3 linked regions of the Homo sapiens genome follow. The protein of the gene in region 1 interacts with the protein of each later gene in a biochemical or structural test. Each region holds a gene or a part of one and is shown in the gene's direction. Other genes may lie near its edges. The genes, in order: NEUROD1, MAP3K10 and MAFA.

What was found.
Region 2: of the proteins of NEUROD1 (region 1) and MAP3K10, one has a biochemical effect on the other in vitro, tested with the Homo sapiens proteins (one study listed by BioGRID).
Region 3: the proteins of NEUROD1 (region 1) and MAFA form a complex in vitro, tested with the Homo sapiens proteins (one study listed by BioGRID).

The regions. Positions count from the first base shown.
Region 1 is NC_000002.12:181,678,936-181,682,681, reverse strand, and holds the start of NEUROD1 (neurogenic differentiation factor 1), read left to right. Parts: upstream 1-2,164; 5' UTR 2,165-2,252; intron 2,253-3,746. UniProt on the Homo sapiens protein: Acts as a transcriptional activator: mediates transcriptional activation by binding to E box-containing promoter consensus core sequences 5'-CANNTG-3'.
Region 2 is NC_000019.10:40,208,362-40,212,107, forward strand, and holds part of MAP3K10 (mitogen-activated protein kinase kinase kinase 10), read left to right. Parts: intron 1-741; coding exon 742-858; intron 859-3,746. UniProt on the Homo sapiens protein: Activates the JUN N-terminal pathway.
Region 3 is NC_000008.11:143,429,096-143,432,841, reverse strand, and holds the start of MAFA (transcription factor MafA), read left to right. Parts: upstream 1-2,109; 5' UTR 2,110-2,435; coding exon 2,436-3,497; 3' UTR 3,498-3,746. UniProt on the Homo sapiens protein: Transcription factor that activates insulin gene expression. Acts synergistically with NEUROD1/BETA2 and PDX1. Binds the insulin enhancer C1/RIPE3b element. Binds to consensus TRE-type MARE 5'-TGCTGACTCAGCA-3' DNA sequence.

The DNA.
Region 1 (3,746 bases):
GCCAGTCGGGGCAGCTGCCGGGTGAGGGGCAGTACTTAACCTGGCCCTGCCGCAAACGTCGGGCTGTGTACTATCTTCTAAGGGCTAGTACTCCGACGCCCTCGAGTTTTAGCCCAACACTGAAGATACAGACAGTACAGGGGTAAATCCTGGGCCCAGGCTCCTGGGTGAATTATTTTATCCTCCCCTATGCGCTTTGTCAGCCAAGTGAATGTAGAAAAGCAAGCAAAACTCCAGAACCCCACAACGATTCACGCCACGCTTCGGTGGCACAACTCTTTTCTTCCCCTTTTAGATTAGTACTGTGCAGGGAAGGCTGCACCTGCTACCTTCAGACACCGGGGATCTGGCTAGGACCCTCTTCCTCTACCCCTACTCTCTCCTCCCGTCCCCACCCTCTCCCAGATGCACCCCAATCCAGCCTCTCAACCCTGTCGCTGTTTGCAAACTCGAGGGATGTTTAGTGCAATTGCCTTTAAATAAGCAATTCACGTAAGAGGTATTTATTGCAGAGGGTTTCAGGTCTGGGAGGGGGTAAGGAGTTAGTTAATGAAGGATTAGAGGCAAAGCTGGGAAAGAACGAGTAGACAGGCCAGTTTCTTTCTTTCTTTTTAAAATCTATTATTCTGGAAAACCCTTGTTCGAAAAGAGTAAAGAATTGCTATTTGGGCAACAATATGGCTCCTTCAGAACTGGTCGAGAATTTCTGTGGTCTTTGCTTGACCTTCAAGTTGGGAGTTTCAAATCAGAGGCTTTGAAGTCTGGAGGAGTTCGCAGCCATTAATCCTTCCGGGGTTGTGCTAAAGGCGTTTCTAGAAAGAGATCGGAAAGACCCGTTCAGCACAGGCCCATTGCATCTTCTCTTTGAAAACGCTTGTCTGAATCAAGTATCTTATACAGACCCGAGACTGAGGGGAGCAAGAGCGCAGGTCCGGCTGTGGCGAGGTGTCCACCACCGTACTTGTGGTCAATGCCTGGACTAGAGAGCCGAGGCCGTCCAGGGCGGGCTGGCCAGGGAACCAGAAGCGTCCCTGGACTGGCTGAGTGAGGGTGCCCTTTCCAGCAACCCAGTGGCCATGGTTAAAAGGCAGAATACAACCGTCAAAGAAGTCCCCAGCTCCCACATAAGAGAGCGCAAAGGCCAATGGAACCAAGGCCTCCTCGCGAGAACTAGCTCGCTTTGAGGACAAGATCCTGGGGATGGAGGTGGGGACTGACGTAGTGAGAGGGTCTGGAGGAACAGTCGTAGCTGAAGGTCAGGACATGAAGAATTGCACGTATGGTAGGGATAGAATGGCAGGTACAACTTTTCTGTACTGAAGGAACTGGGAGAGGACGATCCGGTTAGGGAGGTTGGGGAACTAATCTCAACGCTGCGTTTACAGATGAAGCCGCTTTTATATGGCGTATATGTTTGCTTAGAGGGGCCGACGGAGATTAGGAGAAGCCATCCTTTGGCGCCAATGATCAAAGCGTCTGCCAAGGAGAAGAAGCCAAGGGATGGGCCTTTCAGAGAGGGCAAGGAGTCATGCTGCTCTGGATGCCAGTGTCAGGACAAGAAATCGAAAGGAGCGAGGACTCTTCACTGCGTGCCTCAGTCTCCCCGCTTCTGCCTCTTTCACCTCTGTCCTACTTCCGGCGCGAAAGCAGGCCACTCGCTCTGATCTAGACCTAGTTAACATTAGCTTTTCCCTTCCTTCCCTCAAATCCCCTCCCCCCTCTATCCCCGTCCCTTCTGCCGCCTGAAAGGGTTAATCTCTCCTGCGGGTAAAAACAGGTCCGCGGAGTCTCTAACTGGCGACAGATGGGCCACTTTCTTCTGGCCACAAAGGGGCCGGAATGGAGCGCTCCGCGGCATACAAATGGGCAGGTCACGTGGTTCCAGGCTCTTGGCTGGACCGGGAAGACCATATGGCGCATGCCGGGGAGGAAGGAGGAGGGGCGGGGGTAGGGGTGGAGGGTGAGGGGAGCGGTTGTCGGAGGAGGGCGGGAGACGAGCAAGGCGTGGGGAGAAGTGGGGAGGAGGGGAGAACGGGGAGCGCACAGCCTGGACGCGTGCGCAGGCGTCAGGCGCATAGACCTGCTAGCCCCTCAGCTAGCGGCCCCGCCCGCGCTTAGCATCACTAACTGGGCTATATAACCTGAGCGCCCGCGCGGCCACGACACGAGGAATTCGCCCACGCAGGAGGCGCGGCGTCCGGAGGCCCCAGGGTTATGAGACTATCACTGCTCAGGACCTACTAACAACAAAGGTAATTACAGTTCTTTCATTTTTTTGCCCCAGAATAGAAGCAATAACTGAAGACTGATGAACCTACATATTCTGTATGTGTGCGTTTGCGAGAGTGTGTATGTGTATTGAGACCAGCATCCCCCTCCATAATTGCCCATAAGTACTCACACATAATGAGTCGTGTCACTCAAGTACCCCCTGCAGGCTTTCTAATTTAAATTTTAAAAATTTGGGTTTCTTTTGTGGATAGCATAGGAGCTTCTTGGATTTTTTAAAAGAATGCACGGTAACTATGATTATCTGCTAGTGCTGATTTTAAAGTCCCAAAAGCAATAATGACTTCACTTTCTCACTTCTTACAGTAAGAAAAAAAAATCTATGTTATCAATATATATTTTGTGTGCATGTATTTTACGCACATTGGGAGTGTCAAGCTGTGTTTTCAGTGAATGAAAGGGACATGGATACCTTGAGTATTCACACCATGGAAAATAAATCAGGTTCAGAGATAGTTTAGTTGAGAGGGGGGAAAGTGGAGAAAGGGAGAGGGACTCACTCCTGCTACCTGTTACCGCTCCAGAGGCGGCCAAGTCCCCAGCAGCCACTACTGGAGCCAGAAATTCAGTTGTTTTACTAAAGGCTTTTTATTTTCCTTACTAGAAGCGGCAACTTCGCGGTTGCCAATCGCTGACCATTATAATTACTCAATCTTTTAAAGGGAGGTTTGAGGCGAACTTTGAAAAGCCCCAATAAAGAGCGGGCGGCCCTTTCAATGGGCTGTTTATTAGAGAGGAGCCTTCCGCACCTGATCCCCGGCGCGTGGGAGAGCGCTCTGCGCCGCGCCCCCAGCCCTCGCCCTGCAGCTAGCGCTTTTGTACAAGGTGGAAATTTAGCGGTGGGCCAGAGATGGAAGGCAAGAAAAGAAAGGCGAGGGAGGGGTGGAAGACCCTGTCCACTTTTGTTGCCAAATGTTACATTGATGGTGAAACAATTTGGTGGAAACTATTTTTCCTCCTTTCTGCATTTGCTTTTCAGTATCCCGTCGATGTAATCTTCTTAAAAATCGCTGCCAGTATTAGTAAATTACGCAATGGCTGTTCAACTTAAATCGCTAAGTATCTGGAAGCCAGGACAGAAATGGAAGTAGAATGTGTGATTTTACAGCTTTTTTTTTTTTTTATGGAGTTGTGAGTAACTTTGAACACATTTGGATAAACATGAAGTCGCTGAAATGTACAGTCATTTCCACACACATTATCCTGTCGGGCAACCACCATAAACACATTTAAGTTAATCACTAGGATACAAACACATATGCGTGAGTGGTGTACACATATACATATTCACTACCCTCCCCCAGTCCTGTCCTCACTCCTACGTACTAGCGGGGCACACGCACGCGCCATTATAAAACACTGCATTTAACTTTTTCTCAGAGGCATTCATTTTGTAATGGGCAGGTACTTTTCGCAAGCATTTGTACAGGTTTAGGGAGTGGAAGCTGAAGGCGTAT
Region 2 (3,746 bases), on another chromosome or scaffold:
TTTTTTTTGTATTTTTAGTAGAGACAGGGTTTCACCGTGTTAGCCAGGATGGTCTCAATCTCCTGACCTCGTGATCCGCCTGCCTCGGCCTCCCAAAGTGCTGGGATTACAGACATGAGCCACCGCGCCCAGCCCCCATACCTGTTTTTAAAATTTAAACTCAAATTGCGGTAATTACAATAAAATAAAGAGTTGGCTGGGCATGGTGGCTCACACCTGTAATCCCAGCACTTTGGGAGGCGGATGCTGGAGGATTGCTCGAGGCCAAGAGTTCAAGACCAGCCTGGTCACCACAGTGAGAACTCATCCTTTATATATATATATATATACAGTTTAAAAATTAGATAAATAAAGGTTAAACTCCAATTCCCCCATTGCACAAGCCACATTTCAAGGTGCTCAGCTGCTACACGTAGCTACTGGCGGCCATATTGGACACTGAGGCCTAGGTCCTTGATCCACAAGAGCTCTTGTGCTTGTACTTATTAAACCACAGTCCATTGCTGAGCCTCACCCCAACTTGCTGATTCAGGGAGGGCCCAAGAATTTGCATTGCCAAGAAATTTTCAGCTGATGGTGATGCTGCTGTTCTGGGGCCCACACTCTGAGAACCACTGCATTAAGGAATGAAAAATGGCGGTGTTCCCATTCTAGAATTCCTTCTCTACTTCTACAGAAGAAAATTCCCTTTGGTAATCCCTGGAACCATTTGCTTAGGAAAGCTTCTCTTTCTTTCTGCAGGCTTTGAGCATAAGATCACAGTCCAGGCCTCTCCAACTCTGGATAAGCGGAAAGGATCCGATGGGGCCAGCCCCCCTGCAAGCCCCAGCATCATCCCCCGGCTGAGGGCCATTCGCCGTGAGTATCTCCCAAGGCCCTGACCAGTCAGTCAGTCAGTGAACAAACATTTTTTAGCACGATGTTTATACCTGGCACCAAGCCAGAGTAACAGCAAGAAAGAAGACAGACAAGGCCCTTTTCCTCATTCTTATCACAGGAAACAGATAGTAAACAAATAAGTCAGTAAGCAGGATAATTTCTTTTTTTTTTTTTTCTTTTTTTTTGGAGACAGACAGAGTCTCGCTCTATCTCCCAGGCTGGAGTGCAGTGGTGCAATCTTAGCTCACTGCAACCTCCGCCTCCTGGGTTCCAGCGATTCTCCTGCCTCAGCCTCCCGAGTAGCTGTGGTTACAGTCACACATGACCACGCCTGCCTAATTTTTTGTATTTTTAATAGAGATGGGGGTTTCACCATGTTGGCCAGGCTGGTATCGAACTCCTGACCTCAAGTGATCCACCCACCTCAGCCTCACAAAGTGCTGGGATTACAGCATGAGCCACCGCGCCCGGGCGCAGGATAATTTCTAGTAGTGATAAGTTCTTTAAAGGAGCTCAGGGAAGGGAATAAAAGAGGAGATGTATTAATCGGAGTTCTTCAGAGAAACAGAATCAACAGCATATGTTTAGATATATAGAAAGAGATGTATTGGCTGGGCACGATGACTCATACCTGTAATCCCAGCACTTTGGGAGGATGAAGTGGGAGGATTGCTTGAGCCTAGGAGTTCGACACCAGCCTGGGCAACAAAGCGAGACCCCATCTCTACTTAAAAACAAAAACAAAGGCCAGGCGCGGTGGCTCACGCCTGTAATTCCAGCACTTTGGGAGGCCGAGGCAGGCGGATCACGAGGTCAGGAGATCGAGACCATCCTGGCTAATACGGTGAAACCCCGTCTCTACTAAAAATACAAAAAGTCAGCCAGGTGCTGTGACAGGCACCTGTAGTCCCAGCTACTCGGGAGGCTGAGGCAGGAAAATGGCATGAGCCCGGGAGGCGGAGCATGCAGTGAGCCGAGATAGCGTCACTGCACTCCGGCCTGGGCGAAAGAGCGAGACTCCGTCTCAAAAAAAACAAAAACAAAAACAAAAGAAATAGATGTATTATGAGGGATTGGCACATACGATTATGGAGGCTGGGAAGTCCTGCAATCTGCCTTCTGCAAGCCAGAGGTGCGGGAAAGCCGGTGATGTAGTTCCAAATCAAGTCCAAAGACCTGGCCCAGCACGGCGGCTCACGCCTGTAATCCCAACACTTTGGGAGACCGAGGCAGGTGGATCACCTGAGGTCAAGAGTTCAAGACCAGCCTGGCCAACATGGTGAAACCCAGTCTCTACTAAAAATGCAAAAATTAGCTAGGCGTGGTGGCGCATGCCTGTAATCCCAGCTACTCGGGAGACTGAGGCAGGAGAATCACTTGAACCTGAGAGGCGGAGGTTGCAGTGAGCCGAGATCGTGCCACTGCACTCCAGCCTGGGCGACAGAGTGAGACTCAGTCTCAAAAAAAAAAAAAATTGTCCAAAGACCTGAGAACCTGAACACCAATGTCCAGTGTCTCAGGGCAGGAGAAGATGGATATCCACGCTCATGCAGAGAGCAAACTCACCCTTCCTCTGCCTTCCTAGACAAAAAGAGCTAACTCTCTTTTTGTTCTGTCTGGGCCCTCAGTGGATTGGATGGTGCCCACCCACATTGGCGAGGATGATCTCTCTTTACTCAGTCCACTGATTGAAATGCTAATCATCCAGCAACACCCTCACAGAAATCATGTTTAACCAGCTACCTAGGCGTCCTTTGGCCCAGTCAAGTTGACGCATAAAATTACCCATCACAGAAGGGTTGCGATTTTCCATCTGGAAGCCCTATGGGAGGAGGTGAGGTTTGAGCAGGGACCTTCCTGCTGAGTGAGACAGGCTGAGACCTCAGGGAAGCATGCCCCTGGCGGAGGGAGCAGCAAAGGCAAAAGCTGGAGGTGAGAACAGCATGGGCTGCTTGTTAACCTGTTTGGCTGGAGCAGAGTGAATGGGAGGAGGACATAGGTTTTGTGATCAGGGAGTTCTCAGGGGTCAGATCAGGCAGGGCCCTGAGAGCAGGATAAGAGTCTGGATTTTCCTTTCTTTTTTTTTTTTTTTTTTAATTTTCATTTGACACCTTTGGTATGGATTTTTTTGTTTTTAATTTTTGTTTTTAGTTCTGGGGTACGTGTGCAGGATGTGCAGGTTTGTTACATAGGTAAACGTGTGCCATGGTGATTTGCTGCACCTGTCAACCCATCACCTAGGTAGTAAGCCCATGCATTAGCTATTTTTCCTAATATTCTCCCTCCCCCACCCTACCCCCCAACAGGCCCCAGTGTCCGTTGTTCCCCTCCCTGTGTCCATGTGATCTATTTGCTCAGCTCTCACTTATAAGTGAGAACATGCAGTGTTTGGCTTTCTGTTCCTGCATTATTTTGCTGAGGATAATGGCTTCCAGCTCCATCCATGTCCCTGCAAAGGACATGATCTCGTTCCTTTTTATGGCTGCATAGTATTCCATGGTGAGACAGACGCTCGCTCTGTCTCCCAGGCTGGAGTGCAATGGTGCGATCTCAACTCACTGCAACCTCTGCCTCCCAGGTTCAAGCGATTCTCCTGCCTCAGCCTCCCAAGTAGCTGGGACTACAGGCCTGCACCACCATGCCTGGCTAATTTTTGTATTTTTAGTAGAGATGGGGTTTTCACCATGTTGGCCAGGCTGGTCTCCAACTCCTGACCTCAAGTGATTCTTCTGCCTGGGCCTCCCAAAGTGCTGGGATTCCAGGCAAGAGCCACCGCACCTGGCCTGGTATGGATTTTCTTTTAACTGCCCTGGGGCAGCCCCCAGAGCCATGCGAGCAAGGCACTGAGGGAATCAAATTGACCTTTT
Region 3 (3,746 bases), on another chromosome or scaffold:
AGGCTTCCTGTGGGTGGTGGCGGGATGGGGGTGCCACTGAGTCCAAGCATGGCTGTGGGGTCAGCGTCCCTCAGCCTGAGGTCACAGCTGTGGCCCCGGGGAAGGTTCCCACTGCAACAGCCTGGGGTCAGGCGTCTCCTTCATTCCCACGGGTGTGCTGGAGTCCTCCTGGGCTGGTGACCAAACACCCTCTCCTGGTCTCCTTGGCCTGGCAGGAGCCACAGTGCGATGGGCGGGAGGGGGGGACAGTGGGGACACAGCCCGGTGCAAACACTCTCTCTTTCCTCCTCAACCCCCTTTCCAGTGTGCCCCAGGGCCTCCAGGGTGTGGTACCCAGAAATGCTGCTAGACCCTTGGAGGGGCCGTGGGAGGGCCCTGTAGCCCCAAGGCCTCTCCTGGGGCTGCAGGTGCAGACAACCTGGACTACCACCAGCTCCACTGCGCGGCGGCATCCTCCCTTCCCGGGCCTCCCTCTCAACACGGGGTGCCATAAAGGAAACCCCACACCCCTGGCTGGCTGACCACTCGTGTGGTCTCAAGTCCAGGTACCCAGTGTGGGGACTTGGCTCTGCTGCATGCCCACTTCATTTCTTCATCTGTAGAAGGGTGGGGAGCTCAGAGCCCCCTCTGGGACAGGATCGGGGGAGAGGGGTCCCTGCAGGTGGGTCCTCATGCTGTCCTTGGCCCTCCCTTGCGGGGAGGAAGGCCTGGTCTTCCCAAATCAGCAGTCCCAGCTCTGCCCAGAGGAGTGGGAGGGCCCAGGGAAGGGCCAGGGACACCCCGAGACACCTTAGGAAGCAGATGTTCAGTCCTCACTTCATGACAGTCTTCTTGTTACAAAACAATAGATCTTTGTAGAGGGAAGGAGGTGAGAGCCTGGTACTAAATCTGCGGCGCCGTGACCAGGCCTCCCTGTGGCCTCTGCGCAACTCCTTCCAGGCTTTTTTTCTCTACACAGGTGGTTACATTTTAGACTTTTTTTTTTTTTTTTTAAATTGCTGAAGTCATAGAACAGCAATGGAGAGAATTTCGAGAAGAAACAATAGGCCCACTTCGGGTCACCGGCCTTGTAACTCCTGGCGCAACCCTCCCATCACCCGGCTCGCTGGTGTCGGGGACCTGGGGTCACAGGCCCACCGCCCATCGTCACCTCCTTTGCCCCGTGAACCGGAGCCGTCTCCTCCCAGCAGGTGCACGGCCGCCAGGTGGAAATCCCCGCCTTCCCGTCTCAGTTACCCCCCGTCCCACTCCAGGCCCAGCAAGGCGCCTCCAGCCCTGCGGGGGGCGAAAGTGGGCAGTGGTGGCCGCTTGGGCGGGGATTCCTAACGCCCTGAGGGGCTGCCAGCCCGTGGGCCCCGCCCCCGCCGCTCGCACCCACCCGCGTTGTCCCGCGACCCCCACAGTCCTGCGCTCTCCGCGGCCCCCCACAAGCCGGCCCTCCGTCCCCGGCCCCTCGCGCCGCCCCGCACGCGTGTGTCCCCCTCCGCCCGCCCCGTGCTTCCCGGTGCCCGGAGGTGCCGGCAACTTTGTTGACCAAATTCCTGAACGCGTCTGAGCCGCGGGCTAAAAATAACCGGCTCAGCGCGCCGCGCTCTGCCGGGCCGCGCGGTGTCACCCGTGTCCAGAGGCCCGGAGGTCCCGCTGCCGCCGCCGCCGCCGCTAGCGGAGCTGCCCCCGGCCCCCAGGCCCGGCCGCAAACCCAGGGGGCCGAGGGGGCGTCCCGCCGCGTGGCCCGAGGCGGACGAGGCCCCGAGGGGGTCCCCGGGCGCGGTCCCCGTCTGCTTCCCCGGACTCTCCGGCCGCCGGGTGTGGGAGCTGAGGCCCCTGGAGACGGCAGTTGTCCCCTGAGGCGGCGCGCCCTCTGCCCGTGCAGTGCCCCGTGATGGCCACCAGAGGGCCCTGCCCTCTCCTCTAGCCGGCGGCCCGTCCCTACCTCTTCCCACAGCTGTTTCCCGCAGGAGATTGACAGCTGGGCTCTGAGTTGCCATGGGGATAAGCAAATGAGGGCGGCGGGGCTGGGGCTCCGATTGGCCCGGGGGCGCGCGCCCCTCCCGGGGAGGCGGGCCCAGGCACCCGGCTCTATAAAGGGGCGCGCGCGGCTTCGCGTTTAGCCGTGGGAGGCGGGGCCGGCCGGCGGCGCGGGTGGGGCGCGGGAGCGGTCCCGGAGCAGCCCGAGGCGGCGGCCGCGGGGAGGAGGCGGCGACGCGGGCCCGGGGTCGCCCGAGACACCTGGCCAGCGGTGCCCCTAGCGCGCCGCCCCGGAGTTGACCACGTGAAACTTTTCCCTGCGCCCCTCGGCGCCGCCGCCCCGCGCCGGCGCCCCCCCGCCCCCGCCGGGACCGCCGCCCGCGGGGAGCAGGGGGGGGAGAGGCCTGCAGCTCCCCCCCCACTCCCACGCCGCCCGTCGGGGCGCGGCCGGGCGCGGGCCCCGGGCGATGGCCGCGGAGCTGGCGATGGGCGCCGAGCTGCCCAGCAGCCCGCTGGCCATCGAGTACGTCAACGACTTCGACCTGATGAAGTTCGAGGTGAAGAAGGAGCCTCCCGAGGCCGAGCGCTTCTGCCACCGCCTGCCGCCAGGCTCGCTGTCCTCGACGCCGCTCAGCACGCCCTGCTCCTCCGTGCCCTCCTCGCCCAGCTTCTGCGCGCCCAGCCCGGGCACCGGCGGCGGCGGCGGCGCGGGGGGCGGCGGCGGCTCGTCTCAGGCCGGGGGCGCCCCCGGGCCGCCGAGCGGGGGCCCCGGCGCCGTCGGGGGCACCTCGGGGAAGCCGGCGCTGGAGGATCTGTACTGGATGAGCGGCTACCAGCATCACCTCAACCCCGAGGCGCTCAACCTGACGCCCGAGGACGCGGTGGAGGCGCTCATCGGCAGCGGCCACCACGGCGCGCACCACGGCGCGCACCACCCGGCGGCCGCCGCAGCCTACGAGGCTTTCCGCGGCCCGGGCTTCGCGGGCGGCGGCGGAGCGGACGACATGGGCGCCGGCCACCACCACGGCGCGCACCACGCCGCCCACCATCACCACGCCGCCCACCACCACCACCACCACCACCACCACCATGGCGGCGCGGGACACGGCGGTGGCGCGGGCCACCACGTGCGCCTGGAGGAGCGCTTCTCCGACGACCAGCTGGTGTCCATGTCGGTGCGCGAGCTGAACCGGCAGCTCCGCGGCTTCAGCAAGGAGGAGGTCATCCGGCTCAAGCAGAAGCGGCGCACGCTCAAGAACCGCGGCTACGCGCAGTCCTGCCGCTTCAAGCGGGTGCAGCAGCGGCACATTCTGGAGAGCGAGAAGTGCCAACTCCAGAGCCAGGTGGAGCAGCTGAAGCTGGAGGTGGGGCGCCTGGCCAAAGAGCGGGACCTGTACAAGGAGAAATACGAGAAGCTGGCGGGCCGGGGCGGCCCCGGGAGCGCGGGCGGGGCCGGTTTCCCGCGGGAGCCTTCGCCGCCGCAGGCCGGTCCCGGCGGGGCCAAGGGCACGGCCGACTTCTTCCTGTAGGCGCCGGACCCCGAGCCCGCGCCGCCGTCGCCGGGGACAAGTTCGCGCAGGCCTCTCGGGGCCTCGGCTCGGACTCCGCGGTACAGGACGTGGACACCAGGCCCGGCCCGGCCGTGCTGGCCCCGGTGCCAAGTCTGCGGGCGCGGGGCTGGAGGCCCCTTCGCTCCCGGTCCCCGTTCGCGCGCGTCGGCCCGGGTCGCCGTCCTGAGGTTGAGCGGAGAACGGTGATTTCTAAGGAAACTTGAGCCA